Linked DNA regions of Homo sapiens. The protein of the gene in region 2 purifies or fractionates together with the protein of the main gene of each other region. This does not show direct contact. Each region holds a gene or a part of one and is shown on either strand. Other genes may lie near its edges. The genes, in order: KSR2 and MAP3K8.

Region 1 (3,820 bases), on a different chromosome or scaffold from region 2:
TTAGCAAGCTACAGCCCATGGGCCCAATATGACCCATCGCCTGGGTTTTGTTTTGTTTTGTTTTTTGGGTTTTTTTTTTTTTGAGATGTAGTCTCCCTCTGTCACCCAGGCTGGAGTGCAATGGTGCCATCTTGGTTCACTGCAACCTCCACCTCCCAGGTTCAAGTGATTCTCCTGCCTTAGCCTCCCGAGTAGTTGGGATTACAGGTACCCGCTGCCATGCCCCACTAATTTTTGTATTTTTAGTAGAGACGGGGTTTCGCCATGTTGGCCAGGCTGGTCTCAAACTCCTGACCTCAAGTGATCCACTCACCTCAGCCTCCCAAAGTGCTGGGATTACAGGCGTGAGCCACTGTGCCTGGCCACCATCACCTGTTTTTGTAAGGCCCAGAAACTACAGTTTGTACAACTATAAACATCAAAAAAAAAATCAAAAGAAAAATATTCATGACATGCAAAAAGTATATCAATTTCAAGTTTCAGGGTCCACAAATAAAGTTTTATTAGAAAACTGCCCCACCAGGCCCGGCTTGATGGCTCACGCCTATAATCCCAGCACTTTGGGAGGCTGAGGTGGGCGGATCACTGGAGGTCGGGAGTTTGAGACCAGCCTGGCCAATAGGCTGGTCTGAAACCCTGTCTCTACTAAAAATACAAAAATTAGCCAGGCGTGATGGTGCAGGCTTGTAATCCCAGCTACTCAGGAGGCCGAGACAGGAGAATCACTTGAAACTGGGAAGCGGAGGTTGCAATGAGCCGAGATCACGCCACTGCACTCCAGCCTGAGCAACGGAGCGAGACCCTGTCTCAAAATAAAAAGAAAACTGCCCCACCCATTCATGTATGTACTGCCCATGGCTGCTACATGCTACAGCACAGAGTCGAGTAGCTTTGATAAAAATTGCAGGGTCCACAAAGCCTAAACTCTTTACTATCTGTCCCTTTCCAGAAAAAGTTTGCCAGCCCCTGCCGTAGGCTGCCATCCAAGGCAGGCGAATCACTTGAGCCCAGGAGTTCAAGATCAGCTGGAGCAACATAGCAATACCTTGTCTCTATTTAAAAAATACAAAAAATTAGCCAAGCGTGGTGGTGCATACCTGTAGTCCCAGCTACTCAAGAGGCTGAGGCAGGAGGATCTCTTGAGCCCTGGAGGTCAAGGCTGCAGTAAGCCATGATCGTGCCACTGCACTCCAGCCTGAGTTACAGAGTGAGACCCTGCCTCAAAAAAAACAAAACAAAAAAGCTTATACTTTTCTATTGTATGCATTCCAAAACCTTTGAAGACTTCTATCTCCTTCCACAAAGGGATGAAACGTTGTTGGTCTGACTCTCTAATCTTTAGTTGGATCCCAGAAGTTAGTGGCCTAAATTCATTTCCTATGACAGGCTACCAGGTACCCTCCATTCTGGGCAAAATGGTCTCTAGGCTGCCCCATGAAGGCATTCAAATACCTTCATCTGGTTTGTTGTTCTTGTCCAGCATGCTCTCCCCTTTTGCTGCAATCTAAACCCTCCTCATCCTTCACTCCAAATCCCCATCTCCCCAACCAAGAAGGTTTCCCTGCTTTGCCAAATGTTTTCCCAGGTGTATCCTATGGAACAAAAATCCCAGGAGAAATCCTTGGGCCGGGTGCAGTGGCTCACGCCTGCACTTTGGGAGGCCGAGGCGGGCAGATCATCTGAGGTCAGGAGTTCAAGACCAGACTGGCCATCATGGCAAAAGCTCGTCTCTACTAAAAACACAAAAATTACCAGGGCATGGTGGCGGGCATCTGTAATCCCAGCTATTTGGGAGGCTGAGGCAAGAGAATCACTGGAACCCAGGAGGCAGAGTGAGCTGAGATTGCGCCACTGCACTCCAGCCTGGGTGACAAGAGCGAGACTCCGTTCTATCCTCTCTTGGAGGCCTAATACACATAGGTAGCATATTAAAGGCTCTGAGAAAAGTCCTGCAGTAAAGATGCCTGTTTCCCTTTGCTTAACTCAACCCTTCCCAAACTTATTAACCACAGAATTTGTTTTGTCCACAGAACACTTATTGACTACCAGCATTAAGTACAGTGCCTGGATGTCAGCATTTGTTGAAAGAATTAAAAACGCTAACATCCCACAGATTTAGGGTTCTACAGAACATACTTTGGAAATGCTACTCAAGCTCCTCCTTCTCTCTGTCCAATCTGAACTGCTCCCTTCCATGCCATCTAGTCAACACCATGTAATGCCAATCATTATCATCATCACAGCTGTCATTCATTTAGCACCTGCAGCCACTCTGTTCCAGATAGTGCTAGACCCTTGAAAACGTTATCTCTTTCAATCCTTATAACCATCCTCTGAAGTAGGGAATATTATTTAATTATTGCTGTTTTGCCAAAAACTTAAAACTATAAATCAGAAAACTTAAATCACTAGCCCAAGATAAAGTAAAAAGACAAGCTAGAATTTACAACTATATCAGTCTGACTCAACGTTCATGAACTTTCTTTTCCACCAAAATATCTTCTGACTATGTGCCATGGCTGCCATCGCTGGCTGTCCACTTACTTAATATCTACCTATGCCTCCTTCCACACTAGCAGAGCCCTGATTTTGCATGGAGTGGCAACATGTCATTTCAGGCAATGGATCATGATCCATCTAAGCCGATCCTGGTGGTGGTCCCACTTCCCCACTTCCCGGGCTCCCTTGCAGCTAGGACTCAGTTCTGGCCAAGAAGATATAATCAAATCATCTGCAAGGTGAGGAGGAAGAGATGTCCTGGGGAACCCTTTATTCCTTCACACTCACCAGGTCCTCCTCTTTCCTACCTTGAACTCAGATGTAATCGCTGAAGCTGCAGGAACCATCTTGCAACCATAAGAGAAAAGCCATGAGAATTCCCAAAGACATCAGCCCTGGTATTACTAACCTACTGAGCCAACTGAAGCAGCTATATGTCTCCAGAATTCTTGTTACATGAAGAGAAACCATTATTTGCCTTACTGCTAGGATTGGGTTTTCCATTTCATGCAGCTGAACACATGCCTAATGGGCTCACACATTGTCCCCCATATTATTTACCACTTAGACTTTATCATTATTTCACATACACATTATTATATCATGAAGTATGCTTCCTGAAGGCCAAGTCCACCTTGCATATTTTTGTTTCTACAGAAGTGTATACATGCTATTAAGTGCTGTTCATTATCACAGCACTGTTCAGGGATCATCTATTCAATTTATTACTTGCATTAGTGTTAGCAAGCAGTGAGTTTTCACCATTAAAGAGCTGAAATATCACATCTTTCTCCTAATGGTTTAGCATCTCAAAGTGTCCATTTGAAAACATGTATCAGAAATACCTGGACTGTTTATTAAACGCAGATTCCTTGACCCTCTTGCTAATCCCAGCTAAACTAGAATCTCTAGGGTTAGAGGCTAAGAATCTGCATTTTAACAAGCACCCTCATATGGTTTTGATATACAAAATTAGAAAATTCCGTGGACCCAAATGTTAGCGTTGGCTGGACTTGGCTGGACCCTAAGTTACCAGCCCCTCTGCAGGGGCCCTCCCTAACCCTGCAAATCTGGGAAATACAAATTGGAATAATTGCTCAAGAGCATTCCCTGGGCAAGATGGATGAAAGTGGTTGCATGCTCTGTAGCATACTGGGACAAGGGAACTGAAAACAGATGCATTTCCTACAACTGCAACTCCCCCATAGCCATCCTACCAGTGCCTCCATCCCCCCAGTTTAAAAGGAAAACCACTAGGCAGAAAGAAGGCAATGCCCACTGCGGCACATCCCCATCCAGGAAGCTATCAGAGGATGGAGCA
Region 2 (3,820 bases):
AGTAAAACCGAAGTCAAATGTTCCTCCATTAATCTAAGAAGTTGCTCTCCTAACTCAGCAGACTCCAAGAACCTGAATCACAATCTCCCTCGAAGATGTACAAGATCTCAGGAGGGGAAGCTGCCCCCTCACTCTAGATTTCACGGTGGTGATAACAGCCATGAAAGCATTTCATAGGTTTCTGCCTTTTTTTTCTCTCTCTTTATGTCTTGTTTTAGATGCAATCTTCTTACCGCGAAGAAGCCAGGGGAATAGGTAGCCACATCTTGTTTGCAGATAAGAAAGGAAGCTAACGCAGTATCTGCAAAGCCAGGAGTCTGACTCAGTACTTTTCTCACTCATGCATACAAAGCAGCTAAAAATGACACAGCTTATTTACCATGCCCCTGACACTGCACTGAGCACTTTATGAGCTTGAACTCTGTTAATCCTCACGACCACCTCATGAGGTAGGTGCTGTTATTACTTCCATTTTACAGATGGGGAAAATTGAGGTCGAGAGAGGTTACGTTACTTGCTCAACGTCATGCAAGCAGTAAATGGGAGTGTGGGGGGAGGCAATGAGATTTGACTCCAAGCAGTCTGAGACCAGAGGAATGTTGGATTGCAGGATGCTAAACTGCTTTCCTCAGACACAATTCATACGTCAGAAAATGACCATCAAGTAAGTGAATGATGACACTAAATTGCATGGTTCTTTTGTCAAATGAAATTCACTGAGAGGCAGATGGCTGGGTCATGCGTGCAGGTGGCTCTGCAGTGGAGCATTTCCTGGAGCTTTGAAATGAAGCTCCAGATTGATCAGACGTGCGTGGCTTTAGCCCTGAGTGTCCTGTGTGTTAAAGGCTTGTGCTTCTCAGAACTTGAAATACCTTTCAGAAAGAGGCTATGCTTTTGGGAGTGCAATCGGTGATTTAAGTAAACCAATGTGCCTTGAAATTCTCTTAGATCTCTTAGGGCCTTTTGTCTTTTCTCCTTCAGAACAGAGTTGTTCTAAAATCCTGAGTAACAACGTCAGTTTTTACCCTTGCTTTACTTTCTTTTTCTCATCTACAGATCTCCAAGTGTGGCAGCTGATTTGTATATAAGAGCTGAAATGCAATTTTGGTTAATATAGTCACTTGGACTTGCTTATGATAAATTTGACTTTCCTGGCTTCTTTCTACTACTCACAGCTTCTAGAAGGCCATTTATTTAGATATTAATCTTCTGGGACCCTCAAGATGTTTGCTTTGCACTATTAAAGAATTCTGGTCCTAAGGGAGGACAGCTGAATCATAGGTTAAATGTATCATCATCTTTCTCATACTCATCACTGGGAGAACAAGGTTTCCTGTCATCCTTCCAATTAGCTGTTTAACTCATTTGCATAAGAATCATTCCTGAAACTTGACCTATTGCCATCAAATTTGTGTAGATTGAAATCCATTTTTCCAGCTTCTGGCTTTCAGGGCCTGAGTTTTATTTGCCAAGTTAGCTCCTGCATTTAGTGAAGAGGTTATTTTTCTTTAAAGTCACCAGAGGCATAAAAAAGCCATAGCGATTCTTGCAGGGAGGGTGCCACTTCGGGGGAATAGCTGGGTTGTGTAAGGTTGGAAGCCCTAAAGAGCCGGTAGCCTAAGGTCTTCAAAGATTTCTGAGCTGCTCTTGATTCGTGTGTATGTTTAGTGAAAGTTTGTTTTCAGTGCCTGTAGCTGATACCACTGACTCTGTGAGTAAGAGTAAGCTCTCTGGATCTCAGGTTTCCCTCTGCAAAGTGAGCTGGACTAAAGGTTATCTTAGGTCCCTTTCAACTCTGCACTGTCAACTTGAATTCATACACACAGTTGACACAGAACCCTCGTTTTCTGAACAAAAGCATATAAAATCCTGTTGCCAATCCTTGTATGTCAGTTTCCCATGGGTCTTGAATGCAAATACAAATATCGTAAACTAAATATTTGTGTTTTCTTTCCTAGACTCTCCAGAAAGAGCAACAGTAATGGAGTACATGAGCACTGGAAGTGACAATAAAGAAGAGATTGATTTATTAATTAAACATTTAAATGTGTCTGATGTAATAGACATTATGGAAAATCTTTATGCAAGTGAAGAGCCAGCAGTTTATGAACCCAGTCTAATGACCATGTGTCAAGACAGTAATCAAAACGATGAGCGTTCTAAGTCTCTGCTGCTTAGTGGCCAAGAGGTACCATGGTTGTCATCAGTCAGATATGGAACTGTGGAGGATTTGCTTGCTTTTGCAAACCATATATCCAACACTGCAAAGCATTTTTATGGACAACGACCACAGGAATCTGGAATTTTATTAAACATGGTACGTTTCTTTCCGATCAGTTGGGTGCTATGTGCTCAGCTTTCCTACTGCAGCTTCATTTAATGCAGAGTGGTGTTTGAATTTGGCTTAGATGGGCTGGCAGGCATGATTTTAAAAAATGTAATCATCAGTAAGAAGTACTTCCATGTTAAAGATGCAAAAAAAAAAGTCTTCATTAAAATTTCTATTTAAAGATTCTTGATCATATTTTAGTAGTATTTCTACAAATAGGTAATTAAGAAGAATGTATTTTGGCCGGGTGCAGGGGCTCACGCCTGTAATCCGCGCACTTGGAGAGGCCGAGGTGGGTGGATCACTTGAGGTCAGCAATTAGAGACCAGTCTGGCCAACATGGTGAAACCCCGTCTCTACTAAAAATACAAAATTAGCCTGGCATGGTGGCGGGTGCCTGTAATTCCAGCTACCTGGGAGGCTGAGGCACGAGAATCCCTTGAACCTGGGAGGTGGAGGTTGTGATGAGCCGAGATCACACCACTGCACTCCAGCCTGTGTGACTGAGTGAGACTCTGTCTCAACAACAACAAAGAAGAATGTATTTTAATTTAACAGTTCACTAAAAAGTTTATTCATCAGTTATGCAGAAAAGAAAGGCTTAATGAGACTCCTTCGTCTGAGAGGGGAATAAACACTTTGTCACTAATTAATCTTGAAGGCTGAATTATTTGTTCCTTTCTTGTCACATCTTGAAATGTTATTAATTCATTTCTTGCAAAAATGTAGTATGTAGGCAGTAAATAGCTATCCACAGATTCACTCTCTTTCATTGGCAAAGTATGAATGGCAAGTGATATATTTGCTTAATCATCGCAAGTATGCAAATCATGCAAAATATTGTGGCAACATTTTGTTGCCATAATAGTAGATCAGGTGATGTGTTTAGGTGTGCCTGGGATTCTGTCAGGCTTTTAGTATGTCAGAGGTGAACGTAGGTGCTGGCTAAAGGTAACCTAATATTTTTAAAAAGAATAATTTGCAAAGGAGTAGGTGGTAGCTTGCAAAACATGCTTATTGATGAAAGTGACGCCCTTTCTTTTGGTGTATCTAAATGGCAAAATGGCTAATGTTGGGGGAAAGTCGGTGCTGAATGAGTGCGGAGTCCAGAAAAAGTACTTAATTATTTTGCTTTTTTGCATACCACATTCATTTAATTAAAAACAACAGAGTAATTTAGGTCAGGTATGTAGTGAATTGTTTTGTCAGAAGCCAGTCATACTCAACCATAGCTCACAATGGAGCAAGATAATATTTTGCATTGTTGTGTGACTGCTTTGGTCTGGCTCTATCAAGCTCTATTTAATAGTCGACTAAGTACTTTACCTTCAGAATATTTCTTCCTTTTATAAATGAGAAATAATCATTTGAACTAGAAGCCATATCTGATTTTCCCAAATAAAGGATAGTTGGAGAACTCGGGTTCAAAGTTATATATATGTCTATACCGAGAAATATAATTGTTTGTGTATTTCTCTCATTTTTAACGTA

What was found.
Region 1: the proteins of MAP3K8 (region 2) and KSR2 purify together in Homo sapiens (affinity purification with western blotting; one study listed by BioGRID). This does not show direct contact.

What each region holds. Positions count from the first base shown.
Region 1 is NC_000012.12:117,962,381-117,966,200, forward strand, and holds part of KSR2 (kinase suppressor of Ras 2), read right to left. Parts: intron 1-3,820. UniProt on the Homo sapiens protein: Location-regulated scaffold connecting MEK to RAF. Has very low protein kinase activity and can phosphorylate MAP2K1 at several Ser and Thr residues with very low efficiency (in vitro).
Region 2 is NC_000010.11:30,436,958-30,440,777, forward strand, and holds part of MAP3K8 (mitogen-activated protein kinase kinase kinase 8), read left to right. Parts: exon of another isoform or gene 1-177; intron 178-218; 5' UTR 219-449; intron 450-455; exon of another isoform or gene 456-664; intron 665-1,958; 5' UTR 1,959-1,981; coding exon 1,982-2,317; intron 2,318-3,820.